Homo sapiens: one gene and its partners. The protein of the gene in region 1 purifies or fractionates together with the protein of each later gene. This does not show direct contact. Each region holds a gene or a part of one and is shown in the gene's direction. Other genes may lie near its edges. The genes, in order: MACROH2A2, DDX51, PRP4K, ZNF770, BBX, RSBN1 and TUBA8.

Region 1 (3,500 bases):
TTTTGGTCATTCTGAAGTAGAAAACAGCCTAACAGCCATCAACAGGGAATGGCTAAATAAACTCTGGTGCATCTGTCTTCTGGAATATTAGGCAGCAGTTCAAAAGAATGAAGCAGATCTATACATACTGAGACAGAAAAAGATCACCAAGATGTACTATTAATGAAAAAAGCAAATTGCAGAACAGTACATACTATATGGTACTATTGATATTAAAACGATATAAAATTATACATCTCTATAAGTAAAAATTCATACAAAATGGACAGAAAAAGTATAGAAGATGCCCACTAAGAGAGACAAGAACTAGAGGAATTGTCAAGAAGGGCTTTAGCCATATCATTATTGATACCCATCCATAACCTTGTTACAATATTTGAAGTTCTGTAATTTGTTTTTTTTGTTTGTTTTGTTTTGTTTTGTTGAGATGGAGTATCTCTTGTCCAGGCTGGAGTGCATTGGCACAATCTCAGCTCACTGCAACCTCCATCTCCTAGGCTCAAGTGATCCTCCTGCCTCAGCCTCCCTAGTAGCTGGGACTACAAGCTTGTGCCTCCCAAAGTGCTGGGATTACAGGCGTGTGCCACCATGCCCGGCCAAGTTCTGTAATTTGAATTAATGTATGTCTTGCTTGGATAACTAAATACAAGTAATAATTTTAAAGTGATTGATAATACATAATGATAATACATAATTAATACATAACGATATACACAAAAAATTTACTACAGTAGTTTGTAAAGGGAGAAGAGAGTTTTGGACTTGAAGGGAGGGTGTTGGGCTAGGCTTCATAGAGAACGTGGCAGGATTTGGATGAAGAAGGGTAAGGGAGCGAGGCAGGTGGAAGGAAGCTGGATGCAGATGCTGTGTTCCAGCTAGTCCTCATTCTTCAACATGATTATGAGATTCCCTTGCAAGGCTGAGAGTCCTGGCCTGGCCTACCCTGCCAAGGTTCAGGTTGAAGGATGAACTAAAAGAACCCTCACAATTTTTTTCATTGCCATTTAAGTCTGTGACTACCTTAAATTCTATATATAGAAGAAAGAGAAAAACGAGCCAGTAGAGAAGTATATGAGTTCCAATATAGTATTGGAAGATCATGTTTTTAAAAGGAGTGTAGTGAAATCTTGAAGATAGAATTTTTTTCCCCAATATACACTGGGATGTATATTGGGAATTAGGTTGGAGGGAAAGATAAGTGTTTGGGAGGATAATTCATTTCCCCCAAAAAATCACAAAAGAGACCTTTTGAAACAAAATATTTAAGGCTGGTTTCATTTATTCAAACACTAGTTGAAGGAATATTTATTGAATATCAACTGTGACCTAACACTATGCTAGGTGGCATCTGGGGGTAAAACATGCAATAGCATTTTGGAAGAACAGCCCAGTTGCAGCAGTTGAGGTAAGGGGGCTGGTTCTAGTTTGGTCTCACAGGCCATGGACAAGTCATTCAATGAGCACGTTCCCTTCCAAGCCATTCCTTTCATTGTAGCTACATTTGGGTGGGGGTGGGGAGTGGGAGAATGCTAAATGATTGATCACTCAAGTCCCTTTCAGTCTTAGATTATGATTTTGTGAAATCCTGTGATTTCCAACATTGCAATGACTATGAATTCAGGCAGATGGAATTTGGAGACTACAGGATTAGACCGAGGGGATCTGAAAGTGCCCAGCCTTGGGAAAAACAAAACTATTTGCTGTCATGAGGGTTCTCAGCAGATGATGTGGCTCTCAGGGTTTTCCTAGAGTTAAACTTTCATTATTACCCCTTTACACACATACAACCTCAAGTACCGTACTAATTGTAGCGGTTGGTTTTGAAATAGAGTGGACAAAGAGGCAGAAATATGCCCAAGAAAATGTCAGACTGCATTTCATGAAAATAGTTCTCTATAATGATTTCTTTTGTGGAAATAAATCACAGTAGTTAATGTTTATTAAATGTCTGCTACCTGCCAGGTACTGTTCAAGCACCTTACATGTATTAACCCATTTAATTCTGACAGCAGCCCTATAAGTAGGTACTATTACTACACCCATCACAGGAAAACGAAATGGTGGGGGGATGGTGAAGAACATGCCCCAAAGTCACCACACAAGGGACTCCAGGCCAGGCAGCATGACCCCAAAGCCCTACATCCTTATGCCCACGTGGTAAGAGCAAGGAGCTGGTAGCTTTCCGATGATTCTCAGATGATACTCAGCTTAATGTTTGTGTAGGCAAATTTTTATTTTCAAAACTTATTTGTCTCACTACTTTATCCAACTATGACAAATGAAAGAATATGAGACTGAGCCACAGAACTCTGTACTTTAAGCTGTCTTGTCACAAAGTATTAAATAAGATAAATTTGGTGGTTTCTCTGAAGCCCTTACTGTTCATTTATCCATCTCACCATCCATCATACTTTGCCCGATTTATTTGACTGGCATTGCCAATTTGGACTTGGAATGGAGTAAGTAATTCAAGTCAAAATTCTCATGCTTTGATAGAAATGTGTGTGGAAATATGCATAGACCACCAGTGTACAGACATTTACTCCAACTGATTCTGAGATGTCAGAAGGGTTAGATACACTGACCACATTTATTCACTCAAAGTTACAACACATGATCTGGCCAAAGATTTAGGGGTTGTTTCTGGATATGAAAGGCGGTCCTGATGATAAGAGTTTAGATGCCCAAATTTGGGATATTTCTATGACAACAGGATAAAAGCAGCACAAGATAAAATCAAACCTACCCTGGAACCCAGGCCCCATGCTGGCTGGGCTGGCACTGCCAATTTTATATATATATATATATACACACACACAGAATTTTGTAACTTGTATTTTGCGCTCCTGCCTTCACTGCTCAATAAGACCATTAAAATTAAATAGTGGTGGTGGACCACAAAAAGGCAAACCCCAATAGCTTATACAATATGCAACATAAACTTTTAGGTCAGGTGGTAATTCACTGGGTTGCTCATCCCGAGTGGTAAACTTCCAAATTGAGCTTTCTTGCAGAATTTCAATGAAGTGATCATTGACTTAAGTCCCCCGTCCCCCCACCACCCCGCCAACAACCCTATCACGACTAAACTGAATTTTCACCTCAGCTGTTCCATAGTAAACAATGTAGATTATTGTTTTGGGGTGAAGAAAAGGCAGTCCTAGATATAAAATCAAGCAGATTTTTTCAGGTCCAGTTTTTCTTTTCTGTGGTTATCCTGGGTGAAGAAATAGCAACTTCAAAGGACAGATCCTGTGAATGTGACTTATTTATCCTGGTTGCTCTATCTCTGTGAATGTAAGTGACAGGTGGGGCTCAGAGGGAGTCTGTTTTGAGCATCTTATAGGTTGGAGAGGACCTCAGAGGTGAGCTGGTGCAATGGTTCTCAGGTGGGGCTCCACAGAACCCAGTGCTCCTTGGAGGCCCAAGGCAGGAAAGGTGGCGACCAAGCTGTTGAAGTTCCCAGGCACTTGCCCACTCCAGCCAGGACAGCTCCCCTT
Region 2 (2,613 bases), on another chromosome or scaffold:
TGGAGGTTGCAGTGAGCTGAGATTGCGCCACTGCACTCCAGCCTGGGCAACAAGAGCAAAACTCCGTCTCAAAAAAAAAAATTGCCGGGCGCGGTGGCAAATGCCTGTAATCCCAGCACTTTGGGAGGCCGAGGCAGGTGGATCACAAGGTCAGGAGATAGAGACCATCATTGCTAACATGGTGAAACCCCGTCTCTACTAAAAATACAAAAAAAAAAAAAAAACAACTAGCCGGGCGTGGTGGCGGGCACCTATAGTCCCAGCTACTCGGGAGGCTGAGGCAGGAGAATGGCGTGAACCCGGGAGGCGGAGCTTGCAGTGAGCGGAGACTGCGCCACTGCACTCCAGCCTGGGCAACAGAGTGAGACTCCGTCAAAAAAAAAGCTCTCCTCCCCAGATTTGTGAACCTTGTGACTGTTCAGTGGACACCTCACATATTGCTGGTGGGAAGGTCACGTGGAGACAGCTGGGCAAAGCCTTGGGGCGTTAAACACAGAGTCACTCATGACCCAGCACTTCCTCTCCTATGCACCTTGTACACCCCAGATCAATGAAACCTACATCCACACAGAAACGTACACAAATCTCTCAGCAGCACTGTTCACAGTAGCCAAAAACTAGAAACCACATGTCCGTCAGCTGATGAATGGAGAATAAAACGTGGGAAATCCACACCAGGAGAGAAAAAGGAGTGAGGCACCAGCATAGGCACCCCGTGGATGAACCCGGAACCTGACGCTAACTGAAGGAAGGCTCCGGCTATAGGGAGTGTCCCAGGCACAGCCAGAGATTGAAGGGTGCCGGGGCCGGGAGTTGGTGGGGGTTGGGGCTGGGGACACAGTGGCCAGTGTGTGGGTTTGTTTTGGGGATGATGAAAATGTTCTTAGGTTGTGTGTGGTGATGGCTGCTCACCTCTATAAACCTTTTACTAAAAACCATGGACTGGGTGGATACAGTGTGTGAATTCTCTCAGTCCAGTGCTTTGTTTGAAAAAGGTGGATGATGCCAACATCACTAACCGCCAGGGAGACGCAGGCCACGGCCACACCCGGCTCACTGGAGTTGTGAGGATGGAAACACCAGCCCACCCCACTCAGTTCAGACCTCAGCTTAGATGCAAAGAATGTCTGGGATGGGGACTGGCAGCTGATTAGAGATGCAACCACTGAACCTGTGGACTGTGTTCAAACAAATGCCAGCAGAACACAAAAGGCGACTGTTACAGGAGGCAGAAAGAAATGATTTAGGTAGACGGGGTAAAGCCAGTCCCCAGCAGAAAATTTGCCTTTTAACAAAAAGCAGCTCAAAAATAGCTCCCTTTCTAACCTCGGGGTTCAAAATCACTTCTCACGACAAGCAGCCAGAAAGAGCAGACTGTGAATCACAGATGAGACAGCTCGGGCACAGGAGTGCGGGGGGTGTCTCCTGGGTGATCACCAAACTTCACACTTCCACAATGGGCCCCAGTAAAACAGTGGACCCTAATAAGCACATTCCCGTCCCCTTAGGTGCACTAAGGGAAGCTAAAAGCAGACTGAGGGGTGCCTGTAACCCCAAGAAGATGTCTGGGAGCAGACCCAGAGACCCTCGCAGAAAAGTGTCACAGAGCAGCACAGACTGAGTCTGACAGAAACTCTCTATACAAATAGCACACCTTGTCCCAGCTAAAACCCTGGGCCCTGGGAGGACAAGACATCCCTCCTCTAACCCCTCGTCACTAGCCCATTTGTAAAAACCTTGACAGGCCGGGCACGGTGGCTCACACCTGTAATCCCAGCACTTTGGGAGGCTGAGGCAGGCGCATCACCTGAGGTCAGGAGATCGAGACCATCCTGGCCAACATGGTGAAACCCCATCTCTACTAAAAATACAAAACTTAGCTGAGCGTGGTGGCGTGTGCCTGGAGTCCCAACTACTCAAGAGGCTGAGGCAGGAGAATCACTTGCCCGGGAGGTGGAGGTTGCAGTGGGCCAAGATCAGCCCACTGCACTGCAGCCTGGCGACAGAAAAAAAAGAAACCTTGACATCTTTACTACAACTTAGCAACCCGCTCAGGCCCCCTCTGCAACGGAGAGCTCTTCTTCCTTTTTGCTTATTAAACTTCTGCTCCAAACTCACTGTGTGTGTGTGTGTCTGTCTGCGACCTCGATCTCCTTGGCCATGAGACCAAGAACCTTGGTATTTACCCCAGACCACAAGGCTGCTTCACGATGATTGCCATTTATCGGGGATTGATAGTGGCTCAGTGCTGCTGGGTTCGCAGACATAAGATGTGGGCCTGGCCACACACTCGGGAGGTGGGAGGAGCGGGCACCGTGGGCACACTCGGGGAGGTGGGAGGAGCGGGCACCGTGGGCACACTCGGGAGGTGGGAGGAGCGGGCACCGTGGGCACACTCGGGAGGTGGGAGGTAGCGGGCACCGTGGGCACACTCGGGGAGGTGGGAGGAGCGGGCACCGTGGGCACACTCGGGAGGTGGGAGGAGCGGGCACCGGGGCACACTCGGGAGGTGGGAGGAGCGGGCACCGTGGGCACACTCGGGGAGGTGGGAGGAGCGGGCACCGTGGGCACACTCGGGGAGGTGGGAGGAGCGGGCACCGTGGGCACACTCGG
Region 3 (3,500 bases), on another chromosome or scaffold:
TCCTCCCGGAGTACAGTGGTGCAGTCTTGGCTCGCTGCAACCTCCACCTCCCGGGTTCAACAGAGAGTCTCTCTTAAAATGAAATACTTCAAGGAAGGAATTTTTATCTTCAACAGTGTGGCTTTGTTGTGTTTTCAGATGTGAATCTATTCTAAAATCGAAATGGGAGTTTTACCTTGCATATCTTTCTTCTTACCTATTTAGAAAATTTGAATTTATTCAGAAACTGTGTTATATACATACAATTTGATATGCTCTCCTTTCAATATAAAATGATTTATCAAATGTGGGGGTGGTTCTTACATATTTTTATTTTGCGCTTGATTTTACTTTATGCTTGCAAATGTTTTTGCCTTTTTATATTTCCATTTTGCATTTTAACTCCTATTTTGTTTTCTTTTTTTAATTTTCTCCTAAAAGCATGAACTTACGAGAGGTGTTAAAAAAATATGGTAAAGATGTTGGTCTTCATATTAAAGCTGTAAGATCCTATAGTCAGCAGTTGTTCCTGGCATTGAAACTCCTTAAAAGATGCAATATCCTACATGCAGATATCAAGCCAGACAATATCCTGGTAAGTCAAACAGCCAAGCTGCGCTGTACATCTTGAACATACATTTCACTTCTTACTAGCAGTAATATTATTACTATGAGAAACGACATCTTAGAAGCATAGTTCAGTATATTAATAACCTATTTCAAATGACTAATACTTTTTTATCTTTCTTGGAAATCGGACAGTGAAATTTTATTGACAAGTATGAAGAAAAAGGAAATGTACAATTGTCCCTTTTTTTCTCTTTTGACTGATAGATTTAAAGTGTGCACCAATCCTGGAATGCTTTACTGTAGTAATGAGTTTCTTCTGTTATCTTTAGAAAAATGCTGCACATGTTGCTGTTTTGAAATAAGGAGTGTCCGTACTCTTCTGTTTGCTAATTTTATAGCTCCCTAAGCTGTGGCTCCTGGGGGCTCAAACACAATAAAGCTCAGTTGTGGTTAGGTATTATATTTAAAGGCATCGCTTTTGAAGTTTATTTTATTTTATTTTTAAACTTTCAAGTTCAGGGGTACATGTGCAGGCTTGTTACATAGGTAAACTTGTGTCATGGAGGGTTTGTACCCACTTTTCCTGATCCTCTCCCATCTCTCACCCTCCAGCCTCTGACGGACCCCAGTGTGTATTGTTCCCCTGTGTGTCCATGTGTTCTCACCTTTTGAAACCTTAATTCTCTTCGACTAGTGACTTCTGGTGGTAACAGCAGATTTCACAATGTATATGTTTTTAAAATTTTGAAATACATACATATTATCATAGTGATGTGATTAATGCACACACACACTCCTCCCCTCCCTGGCCCCATTACTTTACCCTGTTTTGTGGCCTTCAGTTTGGGTCGTGTTCGCAACTTGGAGAATTCCAGCTTATATGCTGGTAACATTCTGCATTTCATTTTTTTAAAATGGGTTCTCTTTATCAGTTCTCCTACAGTTGATGCCTAGGAGAGATCCTGAAGACTAAAAGCTAAGCGTGTAAGGTGTTCTTTATTGGGAACTCTTGGAGCTATAACAAAATAAATACTTTTGATTTTTTCTTTTGTTTTTTTTGTTTTGTTTTGTTTTGTTTTGAGGTAAGGTCTTGTTCTGTCACCCAGGCTAGAGTGCAGTGGTGCCATAATGGCTCACTGTAACCTCCAACTCCTAAGCCCAAGCAGTTCTCCTGCCTCCGCCTCCCCAGTAGCTGGGACTACCCACAGGCACATGCCACTGTGACTGCCTAATTAAAAAAAATTTTTTTTAGAGATGAGGTTTGGCTGGTCTCAAACTCCTGGGCTCAAGCAATCCTCCTGCTGCAGCCTCCCAAAGTGCTGGGATTATAGGTGTGAGCTACCATGCTTGGCCAAGATAAATTCTTTAAAAAATGGTGATCTCATTAAAGTTTAAGGAGTTTTTTTTTAATCAATAACTAAGCTATTTAATTCATATTTCTTTTTCTTTTTTGTTAATATCTTAAAATATTTCCTTTATTTCCTTCCAGACAACCACATTAGTAATGAGGTGTATTCCATTTTTATGTTTGGTCTGAATTATTATTGTATTGTATATCTAATGTAACTTGGAGTTAGGGGAGCTGAGTAATTTCATTGAAATGGTAGGTACATTAAAAATGAAGTATAAATTTGTGTGGCCAATTTCATAGTTGATTTTTACCTCAGTTTTTTTTATGAGACACAGCCTTGCCCTGTTACCAGGCTGGAGTGCAATGGCGTGATCTCGGCTCACTGCAACCTCCAACTCCCTGGTTCAAGCATTTCTCCTGCCTCAGCCTCCCGAGTAACTGGGATTACAGGCAGGGGCCACCACGCCCAGCTAATTTTTGTATTTTAGTAGAGACGGGGTTTCACCATGTTGGCCAGGATGGTCTTAATCTCCTAACCTCGTGATCTGCCCGCCTCGTCCTCCCAAAGTGCTGGGATTATAAGCGTGAGCCAATTTTTTGTTTTTTAATTGTGAAATACATGGTTCATGTCAAAGAATATGCAAAACATGTACAATTTAAAAGGTCATTTACAGTGAGCGTCTTTGTGACCATTGTGGAGGTTAAAGAATAACACATTTGCCAGTGTCACAGAAGAAACTCTTGTTTTTAAAACCTAATGCTAAACTAGTATAGGTTTTCACATACATTTAAGAAATGTTTTCCCGTCTTCCTGGGGAAGGAAAAAATAGACCTTAATGACGGAGCTGATTTTTGTTAATGAAAATCCAAAGCCTTTAGCTCGTAATTTCAGGTATCAGTGTGGTTTAAGTACCACATTCCTCATGACAGGAGCAGAAGTTGTGTAGCAAACTGAAGTGCATATGAGTATGGATACCCTGCTATTCTTTAAGGCATTTTAGCCAGCCCAAGAGTTCCACTGATGGATTCTAATTTTAAAATGGTTCTTAAGTTTTCTGTGGGTATTGAAACTGCTTAAGTAGCTGAATTCAGCTTACACTTTAAAAAGTTTTAAAATAACTTTTCTATTTTAAGATGCTTTTCTGATTCCCAAGATGAAAAGAATAGTAATCAATGTGGGAGTTAAAAATAATCATTTCTGTTCCTATTAATAGCTTAACTCTGGATATCATTTATAATAGTCCAGTCTCCCCATAGAGACTGCCTAAGGCTATAGTGTTATGCTGCTTTGGGGTGGGAGCAGTAGGCCAAGTTCAAGTCCCAACTCGGAATTTGTGTGTGTCTCTTTTGAAGGGGGGAAGGGACTCTGGAATATGAATTATCTTCACTTGTTAATCCTGAACATGCCTCTGACTCATGAGTGGCAGCAGTCATGGGAGCAACTCCAGCCTTTCTCAGCAGATGTCACTATTACTGTGTATGTTGAAGTATTTACAAAGGAAAAAAGAAACAAATGACTAATATAGAGTTCATGTTTATCAGTTTTGCCAGATATATTTAACATTTTCTTGACTAATACCTTCTTTATATTTGAGGGATT
Region 4 (3,500 bases), on another chromosome or scaffold:
TTTTAATTTTTTTTTGAAAAAATCTCTGACTCCTTTATTTAAGGGCAGTGCCATAGTAAAGTAATAATGAAAAGAAAATTGGCTTCTCTGATAGAAGATAGAGTATAAGATAGTTATGAAAGTGCTTGCTAAACTTTTTTTTTTTTTTTTTTTTGAGACAGTCTCTCGCTCTGTTGCCCAAGCTGGAGTGCAGTGGTGCAATCTTGGCTCAGTGCAACCTCCGCCTCCCCAGTTCAAGCAATTATCGTGCTGCAGCCTCCCAAGTAGCTGGAATTAACATATGTGCACTACCACGCCTGGCTAATTTTTGTATTTTTAGTCGAGACGGGGTTTTGCCACGTTGTTCAGGCAGGTCTTAAACTCCTGGCCTCATGTGATCTCCCTGCCTTGGCCTCCCAAAGTGCTGGGATTACAGGTGTGAGCCACTGCACTGGGCCAGTTTTTTAAATCTTTATATTAACGCTTAAGACCAAAATGACCCTTTTACTATATTGCCTGATGGGCAAAGCACACTCAAGTTTCAATTACTTAGTCATAGATAGCTATATAAGTAACCAATTTGTCGATCTTATTACCTCTATGCTTGTCTTTTGGGAATTTCACAACAAAGTGAAAAGGAGAATTTTTTTTTTTTTTTTGAGATGGATTCTCACCCAGGCTGGATTGCAATGGCACGATCTCGGCTCACTGTAACCTTTGCCTCCTGGGTTCAAGTGATTCTCCTGCCTCAGCCTCCTGAGTAGCTGGGATTACAGGTGTGCACTACCACACCCGGCTAATTTTTGTATTATTACTAGAGGCGGGGTTTCACCATGTTGGCCAGGCTGGTCTCAAAATTCCTGACCTCAGGTGATCCACCAGCCTCAGCCTCCCAAAGTGCGGGATTACAGGCGTGAGCCACGGCGCCAGGTGAGAAATTTTTAAAACCTGTAAATTTAGTCAGTGGGTTTATCTCTTATTGAGAAACGCTTAAAAATGTTACTAAGACGATAAGGATAACATTTTAAAATTTGATTAGTGTTGAGCTAAATAGTTCCTTAGATTTATGTATTGCTTCACTGTTTTTTAGCACATTCATATACATTATCTCCATTGATTTTTGACAACAGCTTGTGGTGGTAGACAATCCAGGAGACCTTTTCCCCATTTTACAGATGAGAACTCTGTATTTCCTTCTTCCTACCACCAAGATCGTATAGTGGCAAATCCAGGACTAGAACCCAGGTCTTCTGTGAATTTTCTCCTAGTCCACACTGTCCTTGTTGGTCTAAAGAAGTAATTGAGAATAACTCATGTTAAATTTGTGGCTAAGAAATCCACCTATGATAAGTGAAATGTTCTATTCTAAGAGCATATTTACAATGTGCTATAATTGAATGCAAGTATATCTTATTTTTAGTATTATGTTTTGATTTGTTACCTTTCTAGCCCATTTTTTAAAATGATGGCAACTAAATACTGGCAAATCTACCTAATAATGAAATAGGAAAATTGGAATTAAAATATCTATTTCATGTTAAGAAATTCAGCCTAGTCCTCATTTAATGTAGCATCTCAATTAGAAAAATAGCTTAAAATTGTATTGATTTTTAGATATTTCTTTTAAAGACTCATATCTCTGTATGTATAAAATTAGTATTATTATTCTAAAGTATTACTTAAAATGATTATTAACTTGTAAACACTAAGTCCAGATTCTCCTTTGCCTTTAATATCTTCAGCCAAAGAACAACTTAAGTTACTTTTCATATGAATAAATAATTTTAAAATTAATACTTTTTTTCCTTTAATTTTTAGACATCTGTGGAATTTAAGAACAGTATGGAGCTCATCAGAGTATATCATTGAAGAATATGATGGCTGAAAACAATTTAAAAATGCTAAAGATTCAACAGTGTGTGGTAGCCAACAAACTACCTAGAAACAGGCCATATGTTTGCAATATTTGTTTTAAGCACTTTGAAACACCATCAAAATTAGCTAGGCACTATCTCATTCATACTGGTCAAAAGCCATTTGAATGTGATGTGTGTCATAAAACCTTTAGACAACTAGTTCATCTGGAGAGGCATCAACTAACTCATAGTCTGCCTTTTAAATGTAGTATTTGTCAGCGTCACTTTAAAAATCTGAAGACATTTGTGAAGCACCAACAACTTCACAATGAAACCTATCAGAATAATGTTAAACAGGTCAGAAGATTGCTGGAGGCCAAGCAAGAAAAGTCAATGTATGGAGTGTATAATACTTTTACCACAGAGGAAAGATGGGCATTACACCCGTGCTCTAAGTCTGATCCCATGTATAGCATGAAAAGAAGAAAGAATATTCATGCATGTACAATCTGTGGCAAGATGTTTCCATCACAGTCAAAACTTGATAGGCATGTACTTATTCATACTGGTCAGAGGCCTTTTAAATGTGTCTTGTGTACTAAATCTTTTCGACAGTCAACTCACTTAAAAATCCACCAACTTACACATTCAGAAGAAAGACCTTTTCAATGTTGTTTTTGTCAAAAAGGATTTAAGATTCAAAGCAAACTTCTGAAGCATAAACAAATCCATACTAGGAATAAGGCTTTTCGGGCTCTTTTATTAAAGAAGAGGCGTACAGAATCTCGCCCCCTGCCTAATAAGTTAAATGCAAATCAGGGTGGTTTTGAAAATGGTGAGATTGGTGAATCTGAGGAGAATAATCCACTTGATGTCCACTCAATTTATATTGTCCCTTTTCAATGTCCAAAGTGTGAAAAGTGTTTTGAATCAGAGCAGATTCTCAATGAACACAGCTGTTTTGCTGCTAGAAGTGGCAAAATTCCAAGCAGGTTCAAAAGAAGCTACAACTATAAAACCATTGTTAAAAAAATCTTGGCCAAGCTTAAGCGTGCTAGGAGTAAAAAATTAGATAACTTTCAATCTGAGAAAAAAGTATTTAAAAAGAGTTTCTTGAGAAATTGTGATCTTATTTCTGGTGAGCAGAGCTCTGAACAAACCCAGAGAACATTTGTGGGTTCTCTTGGCAAACATGGAACATATAAAACAATTGGCAATAGAAAGAAGAAAACATTGACTTTGCCATTTTCTTGGCAAAATATGGGAAAAAATTTGAAAGGCATCCTTACGACAGAAAACATATTAAGCATTGATAATTCAGTGAATAAGAAAGACTTGTCAATCTGTGGTTCATCAGGTGAGGAATTCTTTAATAACTGTGAGGTACTTCAGTGTGGTTTTTCAGTTCCAAGGGAAAACATACGTACTAGACATAAGATATGTCCTTGTGACAAATGTGAGAAGGTATTTCCTTCTATATCCAAACTAAAAAGACACTATTTAATTCATACTGGACAGAGGCCCTTTGGCTGTAATATTTGTGGGAAATCTTTTAGACAGTCAGCTCACTTAAAAAGACATGAACAGACTCATAATGAAAAGAGTCCTTATGCATCTCTTTGCCAAGTAGAATTTGGAAACTTCAACAATCTTTCTAATCATTCA
Region 5 (3,500 bases), on another chromosome or scaffold:
GTTAGTCTGTCTCTTTGAGTCATGTGATACCTGTTGAATTACATGACAATTAATCCCAGAAGCTCTAAGTCACTTTTCTGCATGTTCCATTATTAAAGATGGTCCAGCATGAATCACTCTGAGAACTCTGAAATAGCTACAGTTAGCTTCATGCAAATGATATGCAAGCAGTCAAGAGGTTGCTCGTGAAGCAACTAACATCATCTCCCCTCGCCCACCTGTATACCAAACACATCCTTTCTCTTGAATTTTCTTAGGAAAACGAAGCTCAGGAAAAGGAAACTCCTCTGATCATGAAGGGTGTTGGAATGAAGAAAGCTGGACATTTAGTCAGAGTGGGACCAGTGGGAGCAAGAAGTTCAAGAAGACAAAGCCAAAAGAAGACTGTCTCCTTGGGTAAGTGCCTGTGAGCACAGTCACCTGTACTCCACAAGCCTCAAGTGTGGGTGGGATTTTCAAGGTAAACAGATCACTAACTACGCATGCTTGTTCTTTGACTACTCGCTCAGGACTTCCTACAATCTTAGTAGGCACCCTAGTGAACACAAATCAAGTGCATCACATCATTCCTGCTGTTAACATGGTCATGTGAATGACAGTAACATTCACATTTTGATCATAGTGAAAATATATAGACTTTAGACTTGGACCTGAGTTTGAATCAACATCCCTTCACCAGGATGCATTTTTCCATCCGAAGCTTAGAATGGATAGTATTAGCATGTTTACATTTTGCCCATTTTACATACTATATGTATTTATTGTTTATAAAATGACAGCTGAAAAATGTAAGGTAAATGAAATTATGCTTCTATCGCCAACTTTATTTTGTTCCAGCTGTCTTCTGTTGCTCTAAGATAAAAATATCAGGTCAAATATTCTGCTGTAGAGAACATTCAATATATTAATTATATATTGAAATGCAGTATTAAGCAATGGCATGCATCAAGATAAAATCACTTAAGAATTATTTTATATTTAACGTTATGCCAAAGACTGTTAATAACCATCTTAATATAAAGTATTTTGTTAGTTAGGAGATCCAATACTTTATACTGGTGAGGAAAGTATCTGCATATTCAGTTAGACTATTTTGAAAATTCTTGAGGTTTCTTGTCGGCTCAATTTGAAAAGAATACTTTGAATAGAAATAAGTACATTGTTATATTCACCATATTTTTTCAAAAGTGTGTTTAAAGCTATGCAAATTGTATGCATTGGGTGTATTGTATTTGATTTATTCATAATATTTGCATATCTCTTTGTGGAATAATATATTTTTCCTTAGATGTCACAGTGCTTTAAGTCTGGCTAATTCTAAGGCTCTAGGTCATCACAAAGTAGCGAGGTAGAAATTATTTCCCATAGTGCTGGCTCTTTAAGATTATTTTTATTGAAATGATATATTTATAATTTTATGTATTTCATTTCTAATATTTTTAAAAATCCAAAGTACTTCAAATTAATTTTGCTTATAATTTTATGTATTTCATTTCTAATATTTTTAAAAATCCAAAGTACTTCAAATTAGTTTTGCTTACATTTTGCTTAAGTAATGACATGAAAATCCTCGTATTTCAGTGTCAAATCATAGTGTAAATGCAGAATATCATTTTAAAATGACCTGCAAGCATCTAGACCAGTGCTCTCTGTAGTCTGGAATTACTGCCACTGCCTTGTGGGTCTGCTCACTGAGAGAGGAGCAGGTGTTATGTAGGCAGTGTGAGGTCCTAGGGGAATAAAGCAAGCATTGAGGCTCCCCAACAGAAGCATTTCTCTGATGCTTCTATTAGAAACTGCTGAAGCTGTAAGAGAGATTTTCATCAATTTTCTTTGAGGAACAAGATAAGTGAAACAATCTTGAAAATCTGTTCCTGAAAAGAGATTGGTATGTGGATTGTATGTGTTTGTTTTTTTAATCATTTCTGAGGAAGGCACATGTGTATAACTGGGAGATGCTTTTTTATAGCTGTAAATTAACAGTAAACTTCAGTGCCTTTTCCTCCTTTCTCCCTTTAAATATTGGCCTGTCAGGATTCGAGTATTTGGGTTTGCCTTGTTTAGAACACGCCAGTATAATACTTAAGCAGGGAGAAATGCCATTTCCTGTCAGTCTGCTCTGAGATTTGTAGATGAGCATTTTAAACCTTTTTTTATCTCAGAAAATGTGCTACCTGTTAACTGTAGCCAAGAAAAATTCTCTCAGTATTGACAGATCTAATTTTATAGACTTCTCTAAGAAAAACATAAATGATTATTATTGTTCTCTTTTTAAGAAAAGTCTCAAGAGACCTTATGAGTTACGTCTCACATTTTCAGTTTTCTTTTGGGTATTCAGAGTATTTGAAAAATTCACAACTTATAGACAGCTTTCTGATAGTATTTAATTAGTATCCAATTGTATCTGATTTTCCATCAGAATAAACATTTTTTAACTAAATGAGAAATGGTGATGTTATTAAGGGGAAAATATCACCTCCACCCGTTACCCTTTATTGCTTTGACAGAACTTAGTACAGTAGTTCCCCCTTAGCCATATTTTTGCTTTCTGCAGTTTTGGGTCTGAAAATACTAAATAGAAAATTGCAGAAATAAACAACTCATAAGTTTTAAATTATGCACCACAATGAGTAGCATGATGAAATCTCGTGCCATCCCACTTCATTCCACCCACTGCATAAATCATACCTTTGTCTATCATATTTCACTGTACAATATGCATGTATAGGAACAAACGTAGCATATGTAAGGTTCAGTACCATCAGCGGTTTCAGGCATCTACTGGGGGACTTGGAGTATATCCCCCCTCCAGTAAAGGGGTGCTTCCATAATTGCCATTTCCTGTTGACCATTCAGTTGGTCATCTGACCCTCTTATCTCTGCTTCTCAACTCTTGTATATTCCTCCAAAACAGTTGTAGTTAAAAACATTTTTAGGACACCCCTTAGCTAGCAGCCTAACACATTTACTGCTTATAAGCTGGTACTAAAATTGCTCTCCTCTTCCCAATACACCTTCTTCCATTTTCCATCTACCAGGCACAGCAGTTGTCCTACAGCCTCTTCCATCTGTCTAGGTTGCATGTTAGTTTAATAAGTCTCACCTAATGAAAGCCAGAAGCCAGCCTAGGATCCAGCAGGCATGTTGCCATTGCTGTGGGACCCTAGAGACAGTCAGCACCAGCCCAGAGATTGCCCAACTTTACGGGTGGCATTTCTGAAGTCATTGATGATTTAAGTTAAAGCATGTTGCCTCTGTGCCATTGCATTCATTGAAAACTGGCTTTACTTTGCTCATTGAATATTTTGTCTTCATTCTAGTCCACTCTCCAGAATGTTTTCCTAGTATTAATGCTTTTTGTTTGTGTATGTTTTAATCAAACAGTAGTCAGTACATTTTTTTAAAGAAACTAATTTTACAAAACTACCAATATATCATATGGTAATTTAATAAGCTTGATTATTAATAATAAGCTTATTAATTTAATAAGATTGATATTG
Region 6 (3,500 bases), on another chromosome or scaffold:
AAGCTTTATTGGAATATAGCTCTGTTCATTCATATATATTGTCTATGGTAGTTTTTGCACTACAGTAGCAGAATACAGTAATTGAGACAGAGACCATAAGACCTGCAAAGCCTGCTGTTCGGCTCTTTAGAGAAGTTTGCCACCCTTGAGTTCACTTAAGAGACATGTTCCTTCCTGCACAGCAGTTCAACAGTATTTAATCTGAATTCATGTGGAGACTAATTACAAATTATTACAATCTCAGACATTTGGAGTTGTTCATAAACAGTTGAAACAAAAATTTAATCTGTAAATGCTAGGGTAAACTTGTTCATCTTTAAAACAGAAAGAAGTGATTTTCAGAGAGATGAAGTGAAATGCTTAAAATTTTTTAGTTGGTGATAGAGCTGAATACAGAACTCAATTTTTTTCCCTCATGGCCCAGTTGACCTCTCTTTCTGCTATGCACACTGGGGTTGATTATTTAACAGAGATATTTAAATGCTGTTTTTATTTCTTATAGGGAATAAGCTTGAGTGTAACTAAACTGGAGGTTACCTATGTGTTTTGAAATCTTAATTTTTTTCTCTCCCTCTTATTGCTCATAAAAACATAGGACAGGCCGGGCGCGGTGGCTCATGCCTGTATTCCCAGACCAAGGTGGGCAAATCACGAGGTCGGGAGTTTGACACCAGCCTAGTCAACATGGTGAAACCCTGTCTCTACGAAAAATACAAAAAATTAGCTGGGCTACTTGGGAGGCTGAGGCAGGAGAATCACTTGAACCTGGAAGGCGGAGGTTGCACTGAGCTGAGATTGCGCCACTTGCATTCCAGCCTGGTCGACAGAGTCAGACTCCGTTTCAAAAAAAAAAATAGGACAAACATACTTCCTTAAAAATCCATGAAAAGAAGTAATGCTTCTTTTTAATTATTCTTAGTAAATTCATGATTTTAATATGTTGTTAAAAAGGAAAGAAAGGAAGGACAGCCCCCATAGGCTGTCTTCTCCAATGTCATTACATGACCGGATTGCTCATATGTATGCTCTTGTGAGTCATCTTTCTTATCTCATTTTTTTTTTTTTTTTTACTCTTGACCAGTTGCCTAACTGCTATCACCGAGTGTAAGTGTTCCTGAGCCAGATGTTTAATGGAAATTTTCTCTCATGTCAAAAAGCAGGGATTTTAAGTCCAGAAACACTTCTTTTTGATGTTAGCAATGGAGAATTATTGGGATTATAAGGGAATTGAAATAAACAATCTTATTTATCAGAACAACAACTGTAGGGACTAATATTTTTCCCTGCTCACCCTGAGAGAGGCAAAAACACCTTTAAGGGCACGAAAACTTTTGAAATGGCACTAAGTAAGATATTTGTTGAAGTAATACTCCCTTTATTCCAAGCTACCTCAGGTCCATTAATTGTAACCAGATAATCTTAGTTGATCATCTAATGGGAGTGTTGCAGGGAGATGTCTGATAGTGGAGGCGGAAAGGAAGAGAGTGTAGGGTGCAGTATGTTAGAAGAATTTGTTTTGGAGTCAGATAGGTGAGAAGTTTGAATCTTGGCTGTTGTGTACTAGCTTTGTGACCTAATATAAATTACATATCTTGTTTCAGGCTGTTTCTTTCTCCGTACTTCATTGGTTTGAGGATTAAAATAAAATAACATATATGGTCCCTATTAGACATTTGGCAAATACGTTTTCTTTCCTCTTTCAGAGATCTTTCTTATGTGTTTCTCTTGATAATCAAGATGATAAGAGACTTATTGTGTGTCACATATTGTGATGAGGGCCTTATAGTCATTGTCTCATTTAATTCTTAAAATAACTCTGTGAGATAGACTCTAGAATTAATAACTTTTTTTTTTTTCTGAGACGGGGTTGCCCAGGCTGGAGTGTAGTGAAGTGATTATAGCTCACTGTAACCTCGAACTCCTGGGCTCAAGCGATCCTCCCACCTCAGCCTGTAGCTAAGCCTAGCTCACTCCTGCAGCTAGGACTACAGGCATGCACCGCCAAGCCCAGCTAACTTTTTTTTTTTTTTTTTTTTTGTAAAAATGGGGTCCTGCTGTGTTGCTCAGGCTGGTCTTGAATTCCTGGACTCTAGCAGTCTTCCTGCCTCAGTCTCCCAAAGTGCTGGGATTACAGGCATGAGGCACTGTACCTGGCCTATTATAACATTTTAAGATGAGAAAATTTAGATTTAAAGAGATTTATGAGCTTACCCAGAGACCTTAGTAAACAATAGAGCTGGGACATTGACTTAGGTCTATCTAACAGTACAGCACCTGTTCTTATCTTAAATAGTACACTCTACTGCCTCTAGAATTCAACTGTTTTTGGCAATAATAGTAGTTATGATGTATTGAGTATTTATTATGTTCTAGGACTATTATAAGTACTTCACATGCGTTTTTCATTTACTCTGCACACTAATTTTATAATGAGATACTGTTCTTTCCTCCGGTTTTACCAATGAGAAGCAGTGCAAAGAATTAACTTGCAAAAAGATATGCTATCTCATTCATTATTGTTGGGAATACAAAATGATACAGCCACTTTGGAAGACAGTTTGGCAGTTTCTTAACAAAACTAAACATACTATACGATCCAGCAGTCATACTCTTTGATATTTACCCCGAGGAGCTGAAAATTTGTGTCCACACAAAAACCTGTAGATAGGTGTTCATAATAGGTTTATTCATAGTTACCAAAACTTGGAAGCAATCAAAATGTCCTTCAGTAGGTAAATGGATAAACTGTGGTACATCCAGACAGTAGAATATTATTCAGTGCTAAAAAGAAATGAGCTATCAAGCCATAAAAAGACATGGAGGAACCTTAAATGCATATTACCAAGTGGAAGAAGCCATCCTGAAAAGGCTGCACATTTTATGATTCCAATTATATGACACTCTGGAAAAGGCAAAACTATCAAGAAAGTTAAAAGATCAGTGGTTGCTAGGGGTTTTAGAGAGGGTTGCATGAATAGGCAGAGCACAGAGCATTTTATAGGACAGTGAAACTACTCTTTATGCAACTTAATTAATGGTGGATACATGTCATACATTTATCCAAACCCTCAGAATGTACAACAAGAGTGAACCTGAATGTAAACCATGGACTGCGGGCAGGCGAATAATGATGCATCAATGTAGACTTATCAGTTGTAACAAGTATTCCACTCTGGCTGGGGGTGATGATAATCAGGGAGACAGACTATGCATTTGTGGGAGCCAGGTGTGGTTATAGTTCTAGGAACCTGAAACTGCTCTAAAAAAAAAAAAGTAAAGGCTTAGGGAAAAAAAAGTTCTAGAAAGTATACTTCTAGAAAGTATACTAGAAAGTTATAGAACAGGGATTTAAACCTAGACAGCGCTCTTAAAACACCATAATATAGAGAGATGGTGGGTAAAGTAAGGCAGTGTTAAAAACATACAATGATTCACAAATGTTTGGCTTTCAAAATGAGTAGTTTTTTGTTTTTCCTTTTTAGTCAGGTATTTATATAGAA
Region 7 (3,500 bases), on another chromosome or scaffold:
ATTTTTATGAATACGCTGAACAAAGCAAATCAGTTTATTTGTCCCCCAAATATTTTGATTTGTTCAAACAAGAATTCAGTCAGAGTCCCCATGATGCGTGTGGTGGTGCTTGGTGGTGCCTTAGTTCCTTTGACATGGGACAGCCCCTCCCAGCTCTTCATTTCTCATGAGTTGAAAAGGCTGGGCCAGGCCCGATGGCTCACGCCTGTAATCCCAGCACTTTGGGAGGCTGAGGCAGGTGGATCACGAGGTCAGGAGATCGAGACCATCCTGGCTAACATGGTGAAACCCTGTCTGTACTAAAAGAATACAAAAAATTAGCCGGGTGTGGTGGCGAGCGCCCGTAGTCCCAGCTACCTGGGAGGCTGAGGCAGGAGAATGGTGTGAACCCGGCAGGCGGAGCTTGCAGTGAGCCGAGATCGCACCACTGCACTCCAGTCTGGGCGTCAGAGTGAGACTCCGTCTCAAAAAAAAAAAAAAAAAAAGAAAGTAAATAAAAAAAATTAAGAAAAAAAAAGGCTGGACCAGCTGCCCTGTAGGATGTCTCACCTTCTGGATTGATTTTGTTTTCTCTGATATCACTGAACTTAATTAACCCTCTGATCCCTGTGTTTCCTGTGAAGTGGAAACTGAATCTACAGGGCTCAGTGATGAGGGCTGAGTATTTTTGAGAAGAAGTCCTCACTGGTGGTGTGTGTGTCACATTGCGTCCCATCAGGAGGTCCTCGATGTCGGGTTGGCCCACAGTTAGCGATGCTGAGATTGATCGCGGCCTTAGGCTGGCGACCCTGGTAGTTACGTCCCCCCTTGTGACTATAACAGTGGTTCTTTGGCTCTCGGCGAAGATCCAGTTCCCCATCAGTCTTTCACCTAATGGTGTTGGCGTTCTTGTCCAAATCAATCACGTAATTAGAAGATGGAATAGGGCAATATTTGATAATCTATTATTCGGTCCACATTGCTTAGCAGACATTCTTCAATTAAAGAAAAAAGAGCCTTCTCTAACTAACGGGGCTGTCTGGATAGGGACAAATGAGTTTTTCTCTGGGGGTTTTCTTTGAGGACTTGTGGGTTTTCATCTTGCATCCTGCTTCACTCAAATGCTGCCATCAGTACTTGTGAGGCTCAGGTTGTCTCATCTTAGGCAGCAGGAGCCTCTTCAGGTGCTTGGGCAGCCCCTTGGTTAGCCTCCGTGCCTCCAGGCGCTATGCGACATTCCAGGCTCATCTAGCACACTCCCCACCCTGGACCTGGACGCCTCCGTCTCTCCAAGGAGCCCAGTTCCTGTTAGCAGGGATCTTCCTTCTCTCTTGATTGGTGTAGCTACTTTTCACTTTTGAGAGCACCTATGAATCTGTCAGTCATTTCTGAGTCTATTTTATGCCTCCAATTATTCTTATGAGCTAGTTCAATAGGAAAAATAGCTCTTTCTAAGGGGTGTGTGTGTTTGCACGACGGGGGCGGGGGAGAGAGAAAGAGACAGACATTTTGTAAAAGACTGGCATATGTATTAGTGTGAGATTAATGAGGGCATTAAAAGAGGCTAAAGACGTTGTCACCATGCTAGTGGTTTTCAGGTCCCCCAAATCCTTGACTCTTCCTCCCATGATCTTCGATTTTCCCAAAATATCCCTGCGTCCTCCCTGGAAAGCCCCAGAATGTTCCAGAAGTGAGAGCAGGCTGGGGGCCGGGCAGCACTGTAGGCAGGACTAGAGGGTGGTCGGGATGCGGTGGTGGTGAGGGGGCGACAGACCCAGAAGGCTGAGGGTTAGGACCACAGAGGACACTGTCACTTAGAAGGAAAATACATAGGATCAGGCCCCCCTCGGGCCTCTCCAGTGTCCCCTCAGCTTCCACACCTCCCTGGGAAGTCACAGCCACATGCTGAATGTGACGCCGTGGTCTGGGTGGATAACTCGCTGGTTGTGGGTGGTTTCTGGATGCAGATGCTGCTTTCCTTAGGCCTGAATTGAGCCCTCAGATGGAGGCAGAGAATAGACCCCACAATAAAGGAGAGAGGAGCAGGGACCTGAGAGCTCCCTCTACGTGTGCTACTTCCCGGTGCAGAAAAATGCTACCAGGTAGTACCGTAATGAAAATGATAATGGCAAGACAGCATCAACAACTGTGGCTAACTTACACTTTTCAGATGAGGAGAGGCTCAGTAACTCAGCCCAGGCCACACAGCACAGCAAGTAAATTGAGAAGGCAACATGGGAACCTGGGGCCGTGGGCAGCTCTGTGGGTGAATCCCCTCCCTAGCCACCAGGCTCACGGAGATCCAGCGGGTTGCGACCCCCGTCGGGCTGCCCCACGCTCACCCCTGTGCTCATCCTCCCTCAAGGCAAGGACCAGGTGTCGCTCAGCTGTAGCACAGAGACAGGACTAGAGTGGGGGCACAGTTGTAAAATTGAACTAGGGGGCAATGGTCCTGATGCTCTGACCCCGCAAGATGCTACTCAGGGCAGCTGCCCTGCTCTCCATGCCCAGAATTTCTTCCACGTCTCCAGGAGCCCCACACTTTGACGTGGACTCTACTGGCTTCTGTGCCCAGCCGTGCCCTCTGGAGGCTCTGCCCCTGGCTTGGGTTACCCGGAGCTGGAAAATGCCAGGGCAGGTCATGGGTAAAAATAGAAACCCACAGACCTGGCACATGCTTCCTGCTGGGCTCAGGCGGCTGCCCCAGGCACAGTGTCGCCTTGTGTGGGCCACTGCTTCCCCAGGGCAGGGTGTGGGTGGGAGGATGAGTCTATCACGCCTACGTGTGCACGTGCACACACACACACACACACTGTCTCTCTCCCCACCCCCCTTTTTCTTTAATAATTTCAACTTTTATTTTAGATTCAGGGAGTACATATGCAGATTTCTTACATGGGTATATATTGTGATGCCAAGGTTTGGGGTACGATTAATCCTGTCACCCAGGTAATGAGCATAGTACCCAATAGTTAGTTTTCCAATCTTTGCCCGCTTCTTCCCTCCCCGCTCCAGTAGTGCCCAGTGTCTACTCTTGCCATTTTTCTGTCCATGAGTACCCATGTTTAGCTCCCACTTATAAGAACATGTGGTATTTGGTTTTCTATTCCTGCATTAATTTGCTTAGGATAATGACCTCCAGCTGCATCCATGTTGCTGCAAAGGATATGGGTTCATTCTTTTTTGGGGGCTGCGTAGTATTCCATGGTGTATATGAATGACATTTTCTGTATCCAGTCTACCATTGCTGGGCACCTGGTTGATTCCGTGTCTTTGCTGTTGTGAATAGTGCTGTGATGAACGTGTGAGTGCAGGTGTCTTTTTGGTAGGATGATTTTCTTTTGGATATATACCCAGTAACAGGATTGCTGAGTGAAATGGTAGTTCTGAGTTCTTTGAGAAATCTCCAAACTGCTTTCCACAGTGGCTGAACCAATTTACATTCCCATCAGTGCACTCCCCATCTTAAGCTGTTAGTACGAATACCAATCAGGCAATTGTGGCTTCACATCAGCTTTACT

Evidence for each region.
Region 2: the proteins of MACROH2A2 (region 1) and DDX51 purify together in Homo sapiens (affinity purification with mass spectrometry; 2 studies listed by BioGRID and IntAct, with this or other methods). This does not show direct contact.
Region 3: the proteins of MACROH2A2 (region 1) and PRP4K purify together in Homo sapiens (affinity purification with mass spectrometry; 2 studies listed by BioGRID and IntAct, with this or other methods). This does not show direct contact.
Region 4: the proteins of MACROH2A2 (region 1) and ZNF770 purify together in Homo sapiens (affinity purification with mass spectrometry; 2 studies listed by BioGRID and IntAct, with this or other methods). This does not show direct contact.
Region 5: the proteins of MACROH2A2 (region 1) and BBX purify together in Homo sapiens (affinity purification with mass spectrometry; 2 studies listed by BioGRID and IntAct, with this or other methods). This does not show direct contact.
Region 6: the proteins of MACROH2A2 (region 1) and RSBN1 purify together in Homo sapiens (affinity purification with mass spectrometry; 2 studies listed by BioGRID and IntAct, with this or other methods). This does not show direct contact.
Region 7: the proteins of MACROH2A2 (region 1) and TUBA8 purify together in Homo sapiens (affinity purification with mass spectrometry; 2 studies listed by BioGRID and IntAct, with this or other methods). This does not show direct contact.

Annotation. Positions count from the first base shown.
Region 1 is NC_000010.11:70,055,846-70,059,345, forward strand, and holds part of MACROH2A2 (core histone macro-H2A.2), read left to right. Parts: intron 1-3,500. UniProt on the Homo sapiens protein: Variant histone H2A which replaces conventional H2A in a subset of nucleosomes where it represses transcription. Nucleosomes wrap and compact DNA into chromatin, limiting DNA accessibility to the cellular machineries which require DNA as a template.
Region 2 is NC_000012.12:132,136,094-132,138,706, reverse strand, and holds the end of DDX51 (ATP-dependent RNA helicase DDX51), read left to right. Parts: 3' UTR 1-2,113; downstream 2,114-2,613. UniProt on the Homo sapiens protein: ATP-binding RNA helicase involved in the biogenesis of 60S ribosomal subunits.
Region 3 is NC_000006.12:4,052,300-4,055,799, forward strand, and holds part of PRP4K (serine/threonine-protein kinase PRP4 homolog), read left to right. Parts: intron 1-420; coding exon 421-574; intron 575-3,253; coding exon of another isoform or gene 3,254-3,277; exon of another isoform or gene 3,278-3,500. UniProt on the Homo sapiens protein: Serine/threonine kinase involved in spliceosomal assembly as well as mitosis and signaling regulation. Connects chromatin mediated regulation of transcription and pre-mRNA splicing.
Region 4 is NC_000015.10:34,981,788-34,985,287, reverse strand, and holds part of ZNF770 (zinc finger protein 770), read left to right. Parts: intron 1-1,797; 5' UTR 1,798-1,853; coding exon 1,854-3,500. UniProt on the Homo sapiens protein: May be involved in transcriptional regulation.
Region 5 is NC_000003.12:107,774,462-107,777,961, forward strand, and holds part of BBX (HMG box transcription factor BBX), read left to right. Parts: intron 1-257; coding exon 258-396; intron 397-3,500. UniProt on the Homo sapiens protein: Transcription factor that is necessary for cell cycle progression from G1 to S phase.
Region 6 is NC_000001.11:113,802,477-113,805,976, reverse strand, and holds part of RSBN1 (lysine-specific demethylase 9), read left to right. Parts: intron 1-3,500. UniProt on the Homo sapiens protein: Histone demethylase that specifically demethylates dimethylated 'Lys-20' of histone H4 (H4K20me2), thereby modulating chromosome architecture.
Region 7 is NC_000022.11:18,117,309-18,120,808, forward strand, and holds part of TUBA8 (tubulin alpha-8 chain), read left to right. Parts: intron 1-3,500.